Linked DNA regions of Homo sapiens. The protein of the gene in region 2 purifies or fractionates together with the protein of the main gene of each other region. This does not show direct contact. Each region holds a gene or a part of one and is shown on either strand. Other genes may lie near its edges.

Region 1 (3,500 bases), on a different chromosome or scaffold from region 2:
AAATTATGGCCAGGTGCAGCTGCTCACGCCTATAGTCCCAGCACTTTGGGAGGCTGTGGCGGGCAGATCACCTGAGGTCGGGAGTTTGAGACCAGCCTGGCCAACATGATGAAACCCTGTCTCTACTAAAAATACAAAAATTAGCCGGGCGTGGTGGTGTGTGTCTGTCATGCCAGCTACTCAGGAGGCTGAGACAGGAGAATCGCTTAAACCCAGGAGGTGGAGGTTGCAGTGAGTCAAGATTGCGCCATTGCACTGCAGTCTGGGTGACAGAACGAAACTCCATTACAAAAAAAAAAAGAGAGAAATTATGCTCAAGGCCGAGCAAGGTGGCTCACGCCTGTAATCCCAGCACTTTGGGAGGCTGAGGTGGACAGACTGCTTGAGCCCAAGAATTTGAGACCAGCGTGGGCAACATGGTGAGACCTTGTCTCTACAAAAAAAAAATAAAAAAATTAGCTGGGCATGGTTCTGCACACTTGTAGTTCCAGCTATTCAGGAGGCTGAAGTGGGAGGATTGCTTGAGCCTGGGAGATTGAGACTGCAGTGAGCCATGATTGTGCCACTGCACTCCAGCCCGGGTGACAGAGTAAGACCTTGTCTCAAAAAAAAAAAAAAAAATTATTTTCAAGATTTGATTAACCTTTACCTTGATCTTGCTAATGGGCAACTGTGGCCCATTTCACAGATGCCTCATCCCAAAGGCGACCTCATCAGGAGAGACACTTAAAGGACTGGTTGTCTAAATGAGAGGGAATAGAATTTGAATCAAAAAGCAAATGAGAAAAGGAGTGAAATATTGCTGTGGTCCTTTTTGAAAGTAAACCTCTGAAATTCATTGCTCTTTTGAAATTGTGTATCTTGTTTTTAAAGTGCATTTCCCCCCCTTCCTTAAATTTTAAGGTGGAAGGAGATACAGTCACCTTCTCCTTTGAAATGAGAAGTGGCCGTGAACACAACACTCCTGATAAAGCCATGTGGGGCTTTGCTTGCACAGTTCGCGCTCAGGTACTTGAATCTAACCACTGCCGTGGACAAAATGTACTATCTGCTATGTGCCTTGATTACATACAGCATATTTGCCTTGGAAACAGGGCAGAATATGAGTCACTCTTTCATCTTTCTCTTCTAGTTGGCACTAGTCAACTACTAGCAGTTAGTAGTACTTTTACAGAATAAAACTAGCCATGACCTAAAATCAACTCAGCAGCACAGAAATAAATCTATTGATTGGAGCTCCCTCTTCAAAGTTTGGGGAGGTGACCTGACCCCAGCATCTTTCCACAGGGCAAAGAGGACTCAATAGAACTTAATAGAAATAAGCACTTAGATCCTGGGTTTTAAGAGTAGTTAAGCATCCGGCTGGGCGTGGTGGCTCACACCTGTAATCCCAGCACTTTGGGAGGCTGAGGCAGGTGAATCAGCTGAGGTCAGGAGTTCGAGATCAGCCTGGCCAACTTGGTGAAACCCCGTCTCTACTAAAAATACAAAAATTAGCCAGATGTGGTGGTGGGCACCTGTAGTCCTAGCTATTCGAGAGGCTGAGGGAGGAGAATCGCTTGAACCAGGAGGCAGAGATTGCAGTGAGCTGAGATCATGCCACTGTACTCCAGCCTGGGTGATAGAGTGAGACTCCGTCTCAAAAATTAAAAAACAAACAAACAAACAAAAAACAGAGTACTTAAGCATCCTACTTACCCCTCCAGTTGCCTGATTCCGAAAACGTATTTTAGACTTTGAGGTTTCTTAAGCTTAACCAAGCTAAGACTCTCCAGAGTGGCATTAACTGCTAGAATGTAAGCTCCGTGAGAGCAGGGATCTTCATTTCATTCTCTGATGTATCTCAGGCACCTAGAACAATGGCTGGCACACAGAGGACACCCAGTAAATATTTCTTGAATGAATTCACTGCAGTCATTGACAACATCACAGTTTGAGCACAGGGTGGAAGTGAAAAAACAAAATAGTGATTTATACTTAGGTGGGCACAACAGAGAGGAAGCTATCAAAGAATCAGGCTTCTTTATTTCATTTGTACTATTTATTTGATTTGTACTATTGTATATGGGGTCTGATCAACTATTTTCTCTCCAGAAATGTGTTGAGACTTCACTCTGGTCATTCCAGTGCCACCATCTAGTCATGATTTGGGTGCTGTACCTGTGTCCCCTAGCAGTGATACTCGATGCTGCTCTGTAGAACCCTGTGGTTGGGGACAGTGCAGTGTGGGGCAGCACAGGTAGCAGCCTCTGCCAGTGTACACTGACCAGTGTGGTTTACCCCTGTCTGCATTGTAGGAGTCTTCGGAGGATGTCTCAGGAGGCTTGCCCTTTCTGGTAGACCTGGCTTTAGGTCTGTCTGTGTTAGCTTGTTCCATGTTAAGAATCCTGTACAATGGACCAGAAATTACCAAAGAAGAAGAAGCCTGTCAGGAGCTATTGCGGTCCAAACTTTTACAAAGGTAACAAAAAGGTTGAAATTGAGCTAGTGTTGCCTGCAAAGGAAAAAGGACTTTATGTGGAAAAATCCTTTTGGTACATTTCCCAGGTGATTGTGCCTACTGCCTGGCAATCTCATGGGTGTCATTGTGTCTAAGAAAAATAAGATGAAAATTACACCATAGTGCTTTCTGGCCCTTACTTTACTAAATTTAAAATTACATCTTTGAACTGCATAAGCTTTTCTCCAACACAATTATTGTCTAATTAAATTGAATGATCCCAAGAGGATGGGTGGATGTGTGATAAAGCAAACACAGCAAATGTTTATTGTACAATCTAGACAAGTGTGTCTGTGGATATTAACCATGTCATTCTTTCAGCTTTTCTGTACATTTAAAAGTTTTAATGATTAAATATTGGGGGGGAGCTAGATCCCCAAAGATGGGCTTTCATACAATGCTCACTTGTCTTTAGCTTCTGGAGAAGGTTTGATGAGTAATTACTTAACACAGAATGTGATCCTTCATATGTTTGATGTATCTGCAAACATCCAATAGCTTTCCAATACTCTTGTTGAGAGAGGAAGTGAAGAGCCTCTTTTCTGTCTGCTCAGGTGCCAGTGGCAGGTGGAGGCCAATGGCGTGATCTCCCCTGCCCTTACTCCGAGCCCCTCTCCACTGCCTCTGACCATAGAGGAAGACAGAGAATTCACCTACCCCTCTGATGTCCTCGTGCCTCCTGTTGGAAACTACTTTGATCTGCCTCGGATCAGACTGCCTCCAGGAATCATGATAAAGCTCAGGGAAATTTCTGGGCGTGCTAGACCTCAATTTAGACCAAGTATAAAGTATGTTGCTGTGTAGTGTTTTACTTTTCCCAATGGGAAAAAAAAGTTTAAACAATTGAAATGGGTATATTTCTTCTGTGGTCTAGTAAATGAAACTTTAATTTTATGTTTACTCCATGAATGTTAAAATTAACTGAGTCTAGAGGGCCCACCAGGCAGTATTCCAGACTAGGGGCTCTCAAAATTTGGCCCACCAGTCAGCAGCATTGGCA
Region 2 (3,500 bases):
TTGTAGCATGTACTAGAACTTCATTATTTTAGGGCTAGATAATATTCTATTATATGATTATATTTTGTTTATCCATTTATCATCTCATGGACATTTTTGGACATGATTAATAATACTGCTGTGAGCATTTGTGTACACATTCTTGTGTGGACGTAGTTTCCATTTCTCTTCGGTATGTACCTGGAAGTGAAATTCCTGGGTCATATGGTAATCTATATTTAACTTTTTGAGGAACTGCAAAACTCTTTCCAAAGTTCTTACACCATTTTACATTTGTGCCACCAGAAATGAATGAGGGTTCCAATTTCTCTGCATCCTTGCCAACACTTGTTCTTGTCTGTCTTTTTTATTGTAGCCATCCTGGTGAGTTTAAAATGACTTGGAACTAGTGGCTAATGATGTTGAGCATCTTTTCATGTGCATATTTGCCACTCATATATCCTCTTTGGAGAAGCATCAGATCCTTTGCCTATTTTTAAATCAAGTCATTAGTCTTTTTTTTTTGAGATGGAGTCTTGCCCTGTTGCCCAGGCTGGAGTGCTAGTGGCACGATCTCAGCTTACTGCAACCTCTGCCTCCCAGGTTCAAGCGATTCTCCTGCCTTAGCCTCCCAAGTAGCTGGGATTACAGGCTCCCACCACCACACTTAGCTGGATTTTTGTATTTTTAGTAGAAACGGGGTTTCACCATGTTGGCCAGGCTGGTCTTGAACTCCTGACCTCAGGTGATCCACCCACCTTGGCCTCCCAAAGTGCTGGGATTACAGGCTTGAGCCTCCGCGCCTGGCCGTCATTAGTCTTTTTATTGATGAGTGGAAGAGTTCTTTATTCTGGATACAAGCTGTCCTTATCAGATAAATGATTTGCAAATATTTTCTCCCATTGTGTGGGTTGTCTTTTCACTTTACCTGATCTTCGTGGTTTATTGAATTAAATCCATTCTTTTGGTCATTATTTTTAAAACCCTATCTGTGCACTCCTTTTTAAAATTCCCTGTGTGTGCAGTCTTATTTTCATTCACAACAGTAATTTAGTTTTTTGCTAGGCTAGTCTCTTTTCTGTTAGCTTTCATTCCAGGTCCAATCCGTGTTTATTTCTGTTCTCCTGCCCATAATCTACCTCGCTCTCTCTCTGCCTTTGCAAATTTCTAGCCATTCCCTCTCTTAAGACCATCCCCTGTTGTTTCACTTCATACTGATATTCCTCTCTACTTTACTCATTTCATACGTACATGGTGGTTGTCCCACTAACATGATTTATGGCATTTAATTATGTGATGACTTTCATTGTTGCTTGATAACATAAACGTGTGAATCGTGTGAATTCATGTATGGAGATACATGAATCTCCTGATCTCCTGCTTAGAGGTCAGGAACTTTGTCCTTCTTTTTTGTTTCTCTCAGTGCCTACATGATAACTTCCAGTGCACACATGAGCTGTAATATAAACCCACACTTGAAAATGGGTATATCCATTTTCTCATTTTAGCTGAAACGTATTTGAAAGAACCATTTTTCTCATTTTAATCGAAATTCAGAAAAAGCAGACGACCTGGATTTTGTCCTGTAGGACCACATGAAGCAAATTGTCTTTAATTCTCAAAGCCGCATTCTCTGCTAGGAGTCGGGGCCATAATTACAATGGATTAGCTACTTTTGGTTCCCTGTCTAAATGGCTTTTACTATTTGCTTTAAAATACCCTGTAAAGAAATCATTAAATCCAGAATATTGAGAGAGCAAAATCAGTGGGCTCCAGATATTGCAAGCAGAGGGGAGGATATCTTCAAAAGTGTTTTGTCCAGTACTTTTATGAAGAAGTTCAGACTGATATTTTTGTTGTTTTTTACAGCCAAAACAAATTTCAAGAAAACATTGAGTTGTTTGGGTTAGTTTTTATAGTATCACTTCTCAGTAAGGAAATATGATTCATCTGTTGAGTCCTAAAACTATCCCAAATTTTAGATTATTGAGTCAAAAGACTCTAGATGGAAGATTGATATTTATATCTCATAGCAAAAAGAAAAAATAGCAATCTGCGAAGTCAGATTTCCCATCTCTGATTATAAAACTATATATTTTAATAACCCTTAACTGTTTATGGTAATACCTGCAGTTTCTTGACTTCATATTGCAGTTGCTATTCATCTGAATTGTGTTTGTTCATCCGTTAAATACTTACTAAGCTCCTGCTCTCTATGCCAGGAACACACAAATAAATAAATGTAAGACTATCTCTGCCCTAACAGAACTCCTAGCTTCATGGAGGAGACAAATGAGTCAGGAGAGAAATCCTAGCTGCATTCTTTTTTATATATCATAACATAAAATTGTATTTTATATTATACTATTGGTTACAAATATATTTTATAAATTAGGATATACTTCAGACAGCATTTTGATATTGTCTTGAAATGCAAATTTTAAGTGCAGACTGTTGGTAATTTATTTATTTATTTATTTATTTTGAGACAGAGTTTTGCTCTGTCGCCCAGGGTGGAGTACAGTGGCATGATCTCAGCTTACAGCAATCTCCACCTCCAAGGTTCAAGTGATTCTCCTGCCTCAGTCTCCCAAGTAGCTGGGATTACAGGTGCCCACCACCACGCCCAGCCAATTTTTGTATTTTTAGGAGAGATGGGGTTTCACCACGTTGGCCAGGCTGGTTTCGAACCCCTGACCTCAAGTGATCTGCCTGCCTCGGCCTCCCAAAGTGCTGGGATTATAGGTGTGAGCCGTCATGCCTGGCCTGTTGCCAATAATTTTAAATGCAAAATAACATTGTCTATATTTATAATTGGGTATTTCTTACATATGCTCACATCAACCTGAAGAAAATTAAAGTCAAGGTTTTTCTACAAAAAGTTATGCAGTCTGTATGTTCAGAGTGCATTTAGAATTGACATCTATCTCTCTCTTATTTTTCCTCTTTTCAGGGTTATTATATTATGCAGGACATGGTTATGAAAATTTTGGGAACAGCTTCATGGTCCCCGTTGATGCTCCAAATCCATATAGGTCTGAAAATTGTCTGTGTGTACAAAATATACTGAAATTGATGCAAGAAAAAGAAACTGGACTTAATGTGTTCTTATTGGATATGTGTAGGAAAAGGTAAGTTTTCTAATCTTTATTAAAGAATTGTTGGAGTTAAATATCGACCATGACAAACTAGAGAAACCTGTGAAATGCTAAAAGCCATTTGCGTTTGTGAATTTTAGTTTATACATTGAAACTGGAAGAACAAAACTAGAGGAAAATACATTTACTCCATGTATATCTAATTATTTTAACTCTTCATATTTGCTATAGAACACAAATGAAGAACTAAAGGGCATGGGCATTTACTCACACTACAGGGGATTCAACTCTCCAGAATGCCTTTAGATGACTTTAATAATCACTATAGTTATTCCCTCAGGAATTAACAAAACCAACACCCATGGAGTTGGGATCTCTGCTCACTAGTCAGTCCTGGTCTTCCAGACATGGAATGAGTAGCCG

Evidence for each region. Proteins that work in one complex are often made in the same cells at the same time.
Region 1: the proteins of MALT1 (region 2) and HECTD4 purify together in Homo sapiens (affinity purification with western blotting, with the first as the bait; one study listed by BioGRID). This does not show direct contact.

Annotation. Positions count from the first base shown.
Region 1 is NC_000012.12:112,249,932-112,253,431, reverse strand, and holds part of HECTD4 (probable E3 ubiquitin-protein ligase HECTD4), read left to right. Parts: intron 1-873; coding exon of another isoform or gene 874-903; coding exon 904-1,008; intron 1,009-2,297; coding exon 2,298-2,461; intron 2,462-3,054; coding exon 3,055-3,288; intron 3,289-3,500.
Region 2 is NC_000018.10:58,730,465-58,733,964, forward strand, and holds part of MALT1 (mucosa-associated lymphoid tissue lymphoma translocation protein 1), read left to right. Parts: intron 1-2,932; coding exon 2,933-3,110; intron 3,111-3,417; exon of another isoform or gene 3,418-3,500. UniProt on the Homo sapiens protein: Protease that enhances BCL10-induced activation: acts via formation of CBM complexes that channel adaptive and innate immune signaling downstream of CARD domain-containing proteins (CARD9, CARD11 and CARD14) to activate NF-kappa-B and MAP kinase p38 pathways which stimulate expression of genes encoding pro-inflammatory cytokines and chemokines.